2 linked regions of the Homo sapiens genome follow. The protein of the gene in region 1 binds, or shares a complex with, the protein of each later gene. Each region holds a gene or a part of one and is shown in the gene's direction. Other genes may lie near its edges.

Evidence for each region. Proteins that work in one complex are often made in the same cells at the same time.
Region 2: the proteins of MPP1 (region 1) and GYPC are in contact, whole or in part, in an NMR structure (PDB 2EJY), measured with the Homo sapiens proteins. Residues at the interface, in NP_002427.1 of Homo sapiens: Pro81, Met82, Gly83, Ile84, Leu86, Lys87, Leu88, Leu100, Val130, Gln134; in NP_002092.1 of Homo sapiens: Arg123 (codon at 2,013), Lys124 (codon at 2,016), Glu125 (codon at 2,019), Tyr126 (codon at 2,022), Ile128 (codon at 2,028).

What each region holds. Positions count from the first base shown.
Region 1 is NC_000023.11:154,795,441-154,802,491, reverse strand, and holds part of MPP1 (55 kDa erythrocyte membrane protein), read left to right. Parts: intron 1-2,598; exon of another isoform or gene 2,599-2,735; coding exon of another isoform or gene 2,736-2,747; intron 2,748-7,051. UniProt on the Homo sapiens protein: Essential regulator of neutrophil polarity. Regulates neutrophil polarization by regulating AKT1 phosphorylation through a mechanism that is independent of PIK3CG activity.
Region 2 is NC_000002.12:126,694,110-126,697,170, forward strand, and holds the end of GYPC (glycophorin-C), read left to right. Parts: intron 1-1,836; coding exon 1,837-2,033; 3' UTR 2,034-2,558; downstream 2,559-3,061. UniProt on the Homo sapiens protein: This protein is a minor sialoglycoprotein in human erythrocyte membranes. The blood group Gerbich antigens and receptors for Plasmodium falciparum merozoites are most likely located within the extracellular domain.

The sequences.
Region 1 (7,051 bases):
AATTCTCTTGGGCCTATCCCACATCAAAAAAAAATCACCTAACAGATAAGTCAGGCTCCAGGCAAATTTCCACCAAGAAAACCTGTTTCTTGGTTCTTAGGCCATCACATGCAGCATTACTCCCCGCTGGTGGTCACTGAGTGTGACGCAGTGTTGTTTGTTGCCTACTCCAGGTCTGCTGCTGGAACTAAGAGGCAAATAAGGAAGGACGCAGACATGGAAACAAATACAGTAGTGTGGTGGTGATGTGATAGAAGCAGCTGTGGAGCGCTGTGGAGCAAGGAGGGGCACCCAGCACAGTGGGCTCTTGCATTTCGCAGTACCTAGGCTGTAACTGGCAGGTGGTACCTGGGCAGAGGGAACAGCCTGTGCACGGACACCAAGGTGCATGCCGAGTGCGGCACCTTCTGCGATGGCAGGAGGTTGAGTCTACGGTGTGCATGATCACTGACTCTGCTTCTGACTAGTTATAATTTCACCTGAGAAAGAACTTTCGCTGCAGACTTGGATCTTGCTGTTTCCTTTGCAAAGGAAATGGTTCCGTTCAAGGCTTTTCTTTTCACAGAACTGATACTAGAAAGTAAAGTGTAATTTTCAAATTATTTAGTCCTCTGCCCAATTTCCCCAGTATGTGGTGTGGTCTCAGCCAGTCTGCCTTTCCTGTCCTTCACTTCCAGGAACTTCATGACTTTTTTCTGTTTTTTGTTTTTTTTTTTTTTTTTTTTTTTTTTTTGAGACAGAGTTTTGCTCTGTCACCCAGGCTGGAGTGTAGGGGTGTGGTCTTGGCTCACTGCAACCTCTGCCTCCTAGGTTCAAGCGATTCTCCTGCCTCAGTCTCCCAGCTAGCTGGGATTACAGGCGCCTGCCAACACGCCTGGCTAATTTTTGTATTTTTGATAGAGACAGGTTTTCGCCATGTTGGCCGGGCTGGTCTCGAACTCCTGATCTCAGGTGATCCGCCTGCCTCGGCCTCCCAAAGTGCTGGGATTACAGGTATGATCCAGCGCCCTGGGCCTTTCATGACTTTTTTTTCAAAACTGGAAGGGCTTAGGATACCTTGCAGATAAGAATCTGCTTTTATTGTGGCTAAGCAGATTTGAGTTTCATCATGAACGTTCTATTCTTTTCTAACTCATTTGTTCTCCCTACACAAGACACTGAAGTATAATAGAATACCAGGAACAGATATTTCAGGTTAAGATCAATTCCCTTAAATTGGAGTTTGCCAACCTGGGCACTGTTAACACTTTGGGTCTGATAATTCTGTTGTAAAAAGTAATACCTCGCCGCTAAGTTGTGACAATCAATAATGTCCTGAGACAGTGTCAAGAGGGGAGACAAAATTAGTTGATGCAGAGATTTTTCTCCTAAGCAGTGAGTTGTCTCTAACCTTTCAGTGTTGCTAAAAAAGAACTCTGGGTGTGGAGTGTAGAAAGGCAAGACTAAATAGCCATATTTCCAAAATTGGCTGGGGTAGGGGAAGTGACGCCAGAGGAGGGGAAGAGGAACTTTCGTAACATAGTCTTGCTTTTCTTTTTTTCTTTCATATGAAGAAATATACATGAACAAAACACATAATAGGTTTTCCCTCAAAAGTTATCTTCCTTGCGAGGCCTTTTCTGCTTTATTTTCCTCCTTAGCACCTGCCATCATCTCTGAATATTCTGCACAGTGCAGAGGCAGCCTTTATGTGAGGGACACAGCACCTGCATTCTCTCCATGTACCTGCACAAACTCCAAAGTCCATGCTTATAGTTTAACTTCTGGAGTCTGAGGCTTACTCATCCTTTAAGCTCAGACAGGTTTCTGAACCATTTCATGTCTTCAAATATTGACCACAGAATGGGGATGAGCATTTGATTTAACGAGTGTTGTTATTTGCACACAGCTCCGGCACTGGTTTAATGGCAGTGTGGGGACTCAGTGCCAGGTATCTGCAGCCCTGTGTTTCTGCTGTGTGGAACGGTGCTACTTGAGTTTCCTGTTGTTTTTTTTCCCCAGTGGAAGCAAAAGCCTTTGCATGTGTACTGAGAGCATGGGGTAGAAAAAGCTCGTTGGGAAGGGATCTCTAGAGACTTGGCCTTTAGGTTGATGTATGTGTTCCCAGATGGATTTAGTACCTGAGAAGCAAAGCACCTGGTTAATGTATGATTTTAAGACAGTACCTGCCAGAATATCCTGGCTCTTAGGCCTTCCTCTCTCCCTAGTTCCTGTCATTTGTGGTTAAACAGTGCTAATCTCTTTCTAATACTTCAGAATACCCTTGGCTTTCTCAGTTTCTCTTGTTTTTTCCCAAAGTGGAATAGGATACTGCCCATGCAAAGAGAGGGAATTTGCGAGCACCTGGGGCCAGGGCTTGCTGGGCAGCTGTCTGGCATCATCTCGCCTTCTTGGACTTGGCTTTCTAAGTCTCCACGTGGGAGCAGTTGGCAAAGAGCCTAACAGTAGGCTGAGCAAATATTTGTTCTTTCCTATGTTCACTGTCACTTAATCTAATTGTTTGGATTAGAAAGCCAACTTCAGTTGCCCCTGCTCTATTCACCCCCGCCACCGCCCGCCCCCCGCCAAGTTTGTTTTTCATCTCTTTTTAAATTCCAGCTTCCTTTGAGCAACTGCCTCTGCCCTTTGAACCCTGCTGCAGATGTTTCCTCTGAAGGGGCTTTCAGAGCGGCAGGCATTGCCACTCCAGCACTTTGTCTGATTAAAGGCCAGAGGCTGCAGAACAAAGGCCAGACATGGAGTCCTGGGTGAGTGTTTATTCCCTGGCTCCTCCTGAATCCCAGCAGTCATCCTTAACAGAGCCACTTCCGCCCTGCCTTGTCACTGGTCAGGGGCAGGCCTGCCATAGCTCTGTGGCCTCCTATATCCACTACAGATGATGGTGGCTGCTTTGAGAGGATGATGTGGAGGTTGTGAACTGAACTCTGAGAAATAGAATCTAGTACCTTTGACCTTTATTATTTGTTCAGCATTACTCATGTCACTGACAGTATATGTCTGCATATCTTTTCTCCTATGATGTGTCAGTAATGAGGAGACATGGGGACTAGTTGAAGGAGTTCTGTAAGATGAGGTCACAGAGAGCTGACCCTCCCTTTCTGAGAGTCTCATGAAGACAGGGTGGCTCAGGGACAAGTTCACGGTGGAGAAAATTGTGCTTTGCTTTTGGAAAACTTACTGTTGCAAGTGTGTACTTTAGTTACCACGTTGGAAGTTTCCGTTTTTCTTAGTCATCATTTGCAACTTCTGGGTAAGCGTGATAGTGACTCTTAGTCATCGTAAAGAGGAACGTCTTGTTGGATAAGCACATCTGAAAGACCAACCTTTGGGATGGCAACTCTTGAACTTTTCCAGCTGGAATGGTTCTGCCTCTAGTAAGCTTTGCTGAGTCTTTAATTTAAAGGCTGACATGTAAAAAGCAATCACTGTAATAAAGCTGGATAAGAAGAATATGACATAGCTAGGCATGGTGGCTCACACCTGTAATCCCAGCACTTTGGGAGGCCGAGGCGGGCGGATCACCTGAGGTTGGGAGTTCAAGACCAGCCTGGCCAATGCGGAGAAACCCCATCTCTACAAAAAATACAAAATTAGCCGGGCGTGGTGGTGCATGCCTGTAATCTCAGCTACTCGGGAGGCTGAGGCAGGAGAATCGCTTGAATCCAGGAGGCGGAAGTTGTGGTGAGCCGAGATCGTGCCATTGCACTCCAGCCTGGGCAATAAGAGTGAAAGTCTGTCTCAAAAAAATAAAATAAATAAAATAAAATAAAATTCCTCTAGCCACCACCACAATGAAGATAGAGAACTGTTCCATCCCCACAAAGGCCTCTCTCCTGCTGTCGCTTTATAGTCACACTTGTCTTCCTCCCTACCCCATCCCCGCAACTCCTTGCAGTCACTACTCTGTTCAATGTCTCTATGATTTTGTCATTTTAGGAATGTTATATAAGTGGAATCATATAGTATGTGATGTTTTGAAATAGATTAGCTTTCTTTCAGTCAGGATAATGCCTTTGAGCTGGATCCCAAGTTGTTTTAGTATCAATAGTGTTTTTTGTTTTAATTGCTGAGAAGTGTTCCATGGTATGGATGTACCACGCTTTAACTGTTCACCTGTATTTTGGTTCTTTATAGATTTTGGCTGTTATAAATAAAGCTGTTATGAGCATTCATGTACAGGCTTTTGAGTGAACATAAATTTCCATTTCTCTAGGTGAATATCCAGGAGTGTCATCCCTGGGTTTTATGGTAGTTGTGTGTTTGGTTTTTTAATAAAGTGTTCAACTATTTTCTATGGAAGCCATATCACTTACATTCCCACCAGCAATGTATGAGATGCCCAATTTTCCCTCAGCTTCACCAGTTATGAGTATTGTCACTATTTTTTTATTTCAGCTATTCTGATAGATGTGTAGTGATATATCATTGTTGTTTTAATTTGCATTTCTCCCTGATGGCTAATGATGTTGAATATCTTTTTATATCCTCATTTGCCATCTTTATATATCCTCTTTGGTGAAATATCTGTTCATGTTTTTTGCCCATTTTCTAATTAGATTGTTCGTTTTTACTGTTGAGTATTGAGCACTCTCTTTTTATATTCTATATACCAGTCTTTTATTGGATATGTGGTTTGTAAATGTTTCTCCCGGTCTGTAGCTTGTATTTTCACAATCTTCATGTGGGCTTTCACAGAACAAGAGTTTTTCATTTTGATGAGGTCCAATTTACCAATTTTTCCTTTAATGGATTCTGCTTTTGATGTCATGTATAGGAACTTTTTGCCTAGCTCTAGATCCTGACAAGTTTCTTCTATTTTTTTCAAATATATTTTCTAGTTTTGCACTTTACATGTAAGTCCATATCCATTTTAGAAGGTAAGGTTCAGGTCAGCATTTCCCTTTTTGGTGATGAGTTTCCAATTGCTGCAGCACCATTGAGTTGCTTTTGCATCTTTGTTAAAAATCAACTGGGCATATCTCTGTGGGTCTGTTTCTGGGTTCCCTATCCTGTTCCCTTGATCTGCATGTCTATACCACATAGTCTTTACTGAGACTATACTACAGTAAGTTTTGAAACTGTGCAGACTGAGTCTTCCTACTCTCTTGTTTTTCAAAATTATTTTAGCTTTTCATGGGTCTGTACCTTTCCATCATGTATACGTGCTTTTAGTGTAACCTACATGGACCAAGTGAGTGAAAGCACTCGTGTATGAGAAAAATAACACCCCAGATATAGGGTGATCGGTAGCCAACACTGGCTTCTGGCTGAGGCATCAGTAAGGAATGTGAGAGCTGGGGCCACCTGGAGAGCGATGCCAGATCTTCTGATACTTTAAAAAGAAGTTGGAGTCCCCTGATTTTTACTAAACAAAACAGAGACATGTGGTCGAAATAAAACAGTTTGCAACTTCTGCTTTGGAGATTTTTTCTTTTCTTTTTCCAGAGATAGAGTCTCGCTCTGTTGCCCAGGCTAGAGTACAGTGGTGCTATCATAGCTCACTGCAGCCTTGACCTCCTGGGCTCAAATGATCCTCCTGCCTCAGCCTCACGAGTAGCTAGGACTACAGGCACATGCCACCACACCTGGCTTGGAACTTTATGTAATGCATTCACTCCTTCATTTATTGTCCAACCAATGCAGATCCTACTTCTTGACTCCCCACTTTGTAACAGAACAAGATTACAGGCCTCTTCCTTTCGATTTTTCTCCCCTTTTTACCTGCCAACTTCCTATCATGGACATGTGTACCTTAATATTGTCATGGTGCTGATATTTACAGTCTGTTATTTGTTTCATGATTTGTTTCTAAGTGAGTTCTAAAAAGTAAAAATCAATAAGTGGTTTTTAGATTATTATAACTGGTTGCCAATCCAACATCCCACTTCTCACTTACATATCCCTGATCTTGTTTGGGATGGCAAGATGCTCAACTAAACTAATCTTCCCAGCCTCTTTGGCTGGTGCCTCCTGTATGCACATTCTAGGCTCTAGCTGTCTCAACTCTCCTTGGTCATTCCTCCATCTGCTTTCTGTCTTCTGGAAAGCTATTGAAATCTTGGCCGGGCATGGTGGCTCATGCCTGTAATCCCAGCAGATTTGGGAGGCCGAGGCAGGTGGATCACTTGCGGTCAGGAGTTCCAGACCAGTCTGGCCAACATGGTAAAACCCCGTCTCTACTAAAAATACAAAAATTAGCCAGGTGTGGTGGCGCTTGCCTGTAATCCCAGCTACTCGGGAGGCTGAGGCAGGAGAATCGCTTGAACCCAGGAGGCGGAGGTTGCAGTGAGCCGAGATCACGCCACTGCACTCTAGACTGGGTGACAGAGTGAGACTCTTTCTCAAAAAAAGAAAAAAGAAAAGAAAAGAAAAGGAAAAAAAACAAAGAGAAAGAAATCCTTCAACCCTGATGACTTTTTGTGGGTTTCTATTTCCCTCCTCCCGTTTACTCTTACTTAAACAGGGTCAAGGTTGAGGCAGGACAAGATCCACACAAGTACTTGAACCTGAGTCCCAATCACTTTGGAAAATTCTTTTACTAATTTATTTTATTAAAGTAACACAAGCACATAATACATAATTTAAAAGGTATAACTTGATACACAGTGAAAACAATTTCCTTCTCACCCCATCTTATAGCCACCCAGTTCCTCTCCCTAGAAGCAACCACTGTTTCTTATGTCTCCTTCCAGACATAGTTTATGTATTTTCATTTATTTTATTTTTTGAGACAGGGTCTCACTCTGTCACCCAGGCTAGAGTGCAGTGGTGTAATCACAACTCACTGCAGCCTTGACCTCCCGGGCTCAAGCAATCCTTCTGCCTCAGCTTCCCGAGTAGCTAGGATTACAGGTGCACGCCACCATGCCCGGCTAATTTTTTTATTTTTTGTAGAGACGAGGTTTTACTATGTTGCCTAGGCTGGTCTCGAACCCCTGACCTCAGGTGATCCTCCCACCTCAGCCTCCCAAAGTGCTGGGATTACAGGTGTGAGCCACTGAACCTGGCCAGTTTATGGATTTTTAAGCAAATATGAATATAATCATTCTTT
Region 2 (3,061 bases), on another chromosome or scaffold:
GTAAATATATATATACATGCATACATCGTACGTATCTATGTATGTATTTATTGGCCTTTCTCAGGGCTTTTGACTCACAGGAACTCAGGAGCTGGAGAGGCAGCAGTTTTGGTGAAGGAGGTTGAGGGTGGAGGTGAGATGAGGGTAGACTGACCAGGCTACTTAGACTTCTCCACCATCTCCCTCATCCCACATTATTTTCTGCCCTGGGTCCATGACCCTCAACCCTCCATCCTCAAGGAAACTTGATCCTGCCTTTGCCTTGCTTTGAACCCTGGGCAAGGGGCTCCCCATGGGTCATGGCTGTGACTGCAAACTGTGTTTGAAGAACAACCAAGTTTGGGAGGTGCTGTGTGCTCTGCGACCTTCTTTGAGATCCACACTTCTCAGCAGCTTATTAATAACTCAGGAAACATCTACAATTTGAAAAGAAAGAAAAAGCAGCAGAAGCAAGCAATCAAAGACACCTGTTGGACTCTGTGTAACCTGGCATTCTCCAACTCATTGCACCACTGAGCTTTTATTCTTCCTAGATGATATTATTAACATTATGCAGATACAAGTGTTCCCCTGAAGGCAGTAGGAAGTTTAGGAAATTGTTCTATAAAGGTGGGACTTGGGAGCAGTTTCAGACTTTCCATATTCTTCAGCAGTCCCTCCCCAAGGCCTCCAAATAAACCTGCATTCTAAGAAAAGACAGGCTTGCTCTGCAGCTTCAAAGTAAATGCCCAAACTCAAAACACCCCCACCCCATGAGACTGCTGCCCCCTCACTTTCAAGGTCCTGAGTGATCTGACCCCTCCTGAGCAGCTTCACACTGTACTTCCCCACCCCTCTGGAGTCCCAGCAGAAGTGAGGGGTGACCGCCCCTCGCACAGCCACCACCTTGGCATCCTCTGCATTACCCTCTCCCACTTCAGTCCTTTGTGTGGCCAAGTCCTGCTCCTCCAGCAGATTCGCCCCGTCCTCAGTCCCCAGGAGGGAATGGGAGCAGGGTAGGGTGAGGAGCAGCCATCAGGCCATTGAAAAACACAAACCACACAACCTTCCCCAAGCACAGTTAATAGCCTCATCTTTTTTCCCCCTGTATAGTGTACATAGAGCAACCAGCTCTGCCCTGTTTTCTGGGACTTTCCTGGTTTTAGAACGGAAAATCTCCAAACAAGGTTCAGTCCTGGGGTATGATTCTAACGTGTCTGCAGAGTGCTTAGAGTGGTTAGTAGCAGAACTGTGAGGAAGAAAAAGAAAAGGGAGGGAAGGAAGGAGAGGAGGGAAGAGGAAAGGAGAATCATTTTAGGAAGGCACAGGTTACAGTGCCACCACACAACAGGTTGGTGAAGCATGGGGAAGGAATGAACTGGCCTGTTTGGTGTTGGTACAGTTGTCTCCAGTGTACACGGTTCAACTTATGAGTTCTTGAGTTTGGAATGGCGTGAATGCAAAAGCATTCAGTAGAAACGGTACTTTGAATTTTGAACTTTGACCATTTCCCAGGCTGGCAATATATAGTATGATACACTATATTATAAAATAGTCTCTGGGTCAGATGATTTTGCATGACTTTAGGTTAATGTTAAGTGTTCTGAGCCTGCTTAAGGTAGGCTAGGCCAAGCTTCGATGCTCAGTAGGTTTGGAGTATTAAATGCATTTTTCATTTACAGTATTTTTAACTTATTATGGGCTTACAGGAACCTGGCTCCCATCATAAATCAAGGAGCATCTCTTTTGGTTGTGGCATTGTATCTGTCCTCACACAACCCCTGTGGGTCTTGACCACCATCCCAGGCCCCAGAGCCCCTGCCTCAGACTGACCCTTGCACCTCTTCCCACCTGCAGGTGTGATTGCTGCTGTGGCCATCGTCCTAGTCTCCCTCCTCTTCGTCATGCTGCGCTACATGTACCGGCACAAGGGCACGTACCACACCAATGAGGCCAAGGGCACGGAGTTTGCTGAGAGTGCAGATGCAGCCCTGCAGGGAGACCCTGCCCTCCAAGATGCTGGTGATAGCAGCAGAAAGGAGTACTTTATTTGAGGGACAACAGACTTCACTTCCCTGAATGCCTCCCCCATCTCCATCAGGAAAAATACACCCCATCGCCCAGCACCCCTGCTGATACCACCAGACAGAGAGAGAGAGCACTTGATTCTTCCCGAGATAGCCACCTGGAAACACTAGGTGCCTGCCCAGGGAGGAACGGAGGAGGACTCGCGCTACAAGAGGCCACTCCCAGGGACCCAGGGAGGCGATGGCCACCCCAGAGGCCACCTTTTGCTCCACGGAGGTGGGAGAAAATCTGGGCACATGGGGCCCCCTGGGCAGTGCAGGACAACATCAGCTCACTGGCAGGAAAGTCCTTGTTGAGGGTGAGGGGGTGCTGGGGTACCCGGGGGCTGGGGAAGCAAGGAAATAAGTCATCTGTATGCTGACTGGGGATAATGGCATCAAATGTCAGTCCTTGACATTTGGGGGGAACAGCAGGTGCCAGAGCTAAAAGGTACCTTTGTCTGCCATTGATCCAGCTCAGAACGATTGGAAATAAATTTGAAATGTAACCGAGCATTCCGAGTCCAACAGTATTACTGTAGTTATCTGGGGAAAGATAAACGCCACCCAGGGCTTGCTTTTCACCTGTGCAATATTATATTCTCTGACGGGGCCAGGACAGTTCATTTCTGGCTCTTGTGGGGGCCAGTTCCCAGAGAGCACAGCCAGTACAGGCGGCTCCCAAGCCTGCCAAGGGAGGAAGGACAAGTGACCAGCTTTCCTTTCCCTACAGGGGCACCAGCTGCAGGAAACAAAAGGAAGGGTGAAATGTCCCTCTAGAAATAGCCGTTCCCAGTGGCCAGGGCACTAGCTGAAGTGTTGATTTTCCAAGGTGCAGTATTAGAACAAATGGACCTGATCCAAAAATATGAGTGAGTCTTGTCCTTCCAATCACAGTGACCGTGGCACCCAGGGGTGGAAGCAGAGGCTGCAGAGCTCCGCTCGATGGCTTTGGGTCCCAGCTCCCCTTTCCTGGTCCCAGGACCTTGAACAACTTGTTTGACCCCTCTGGCCCC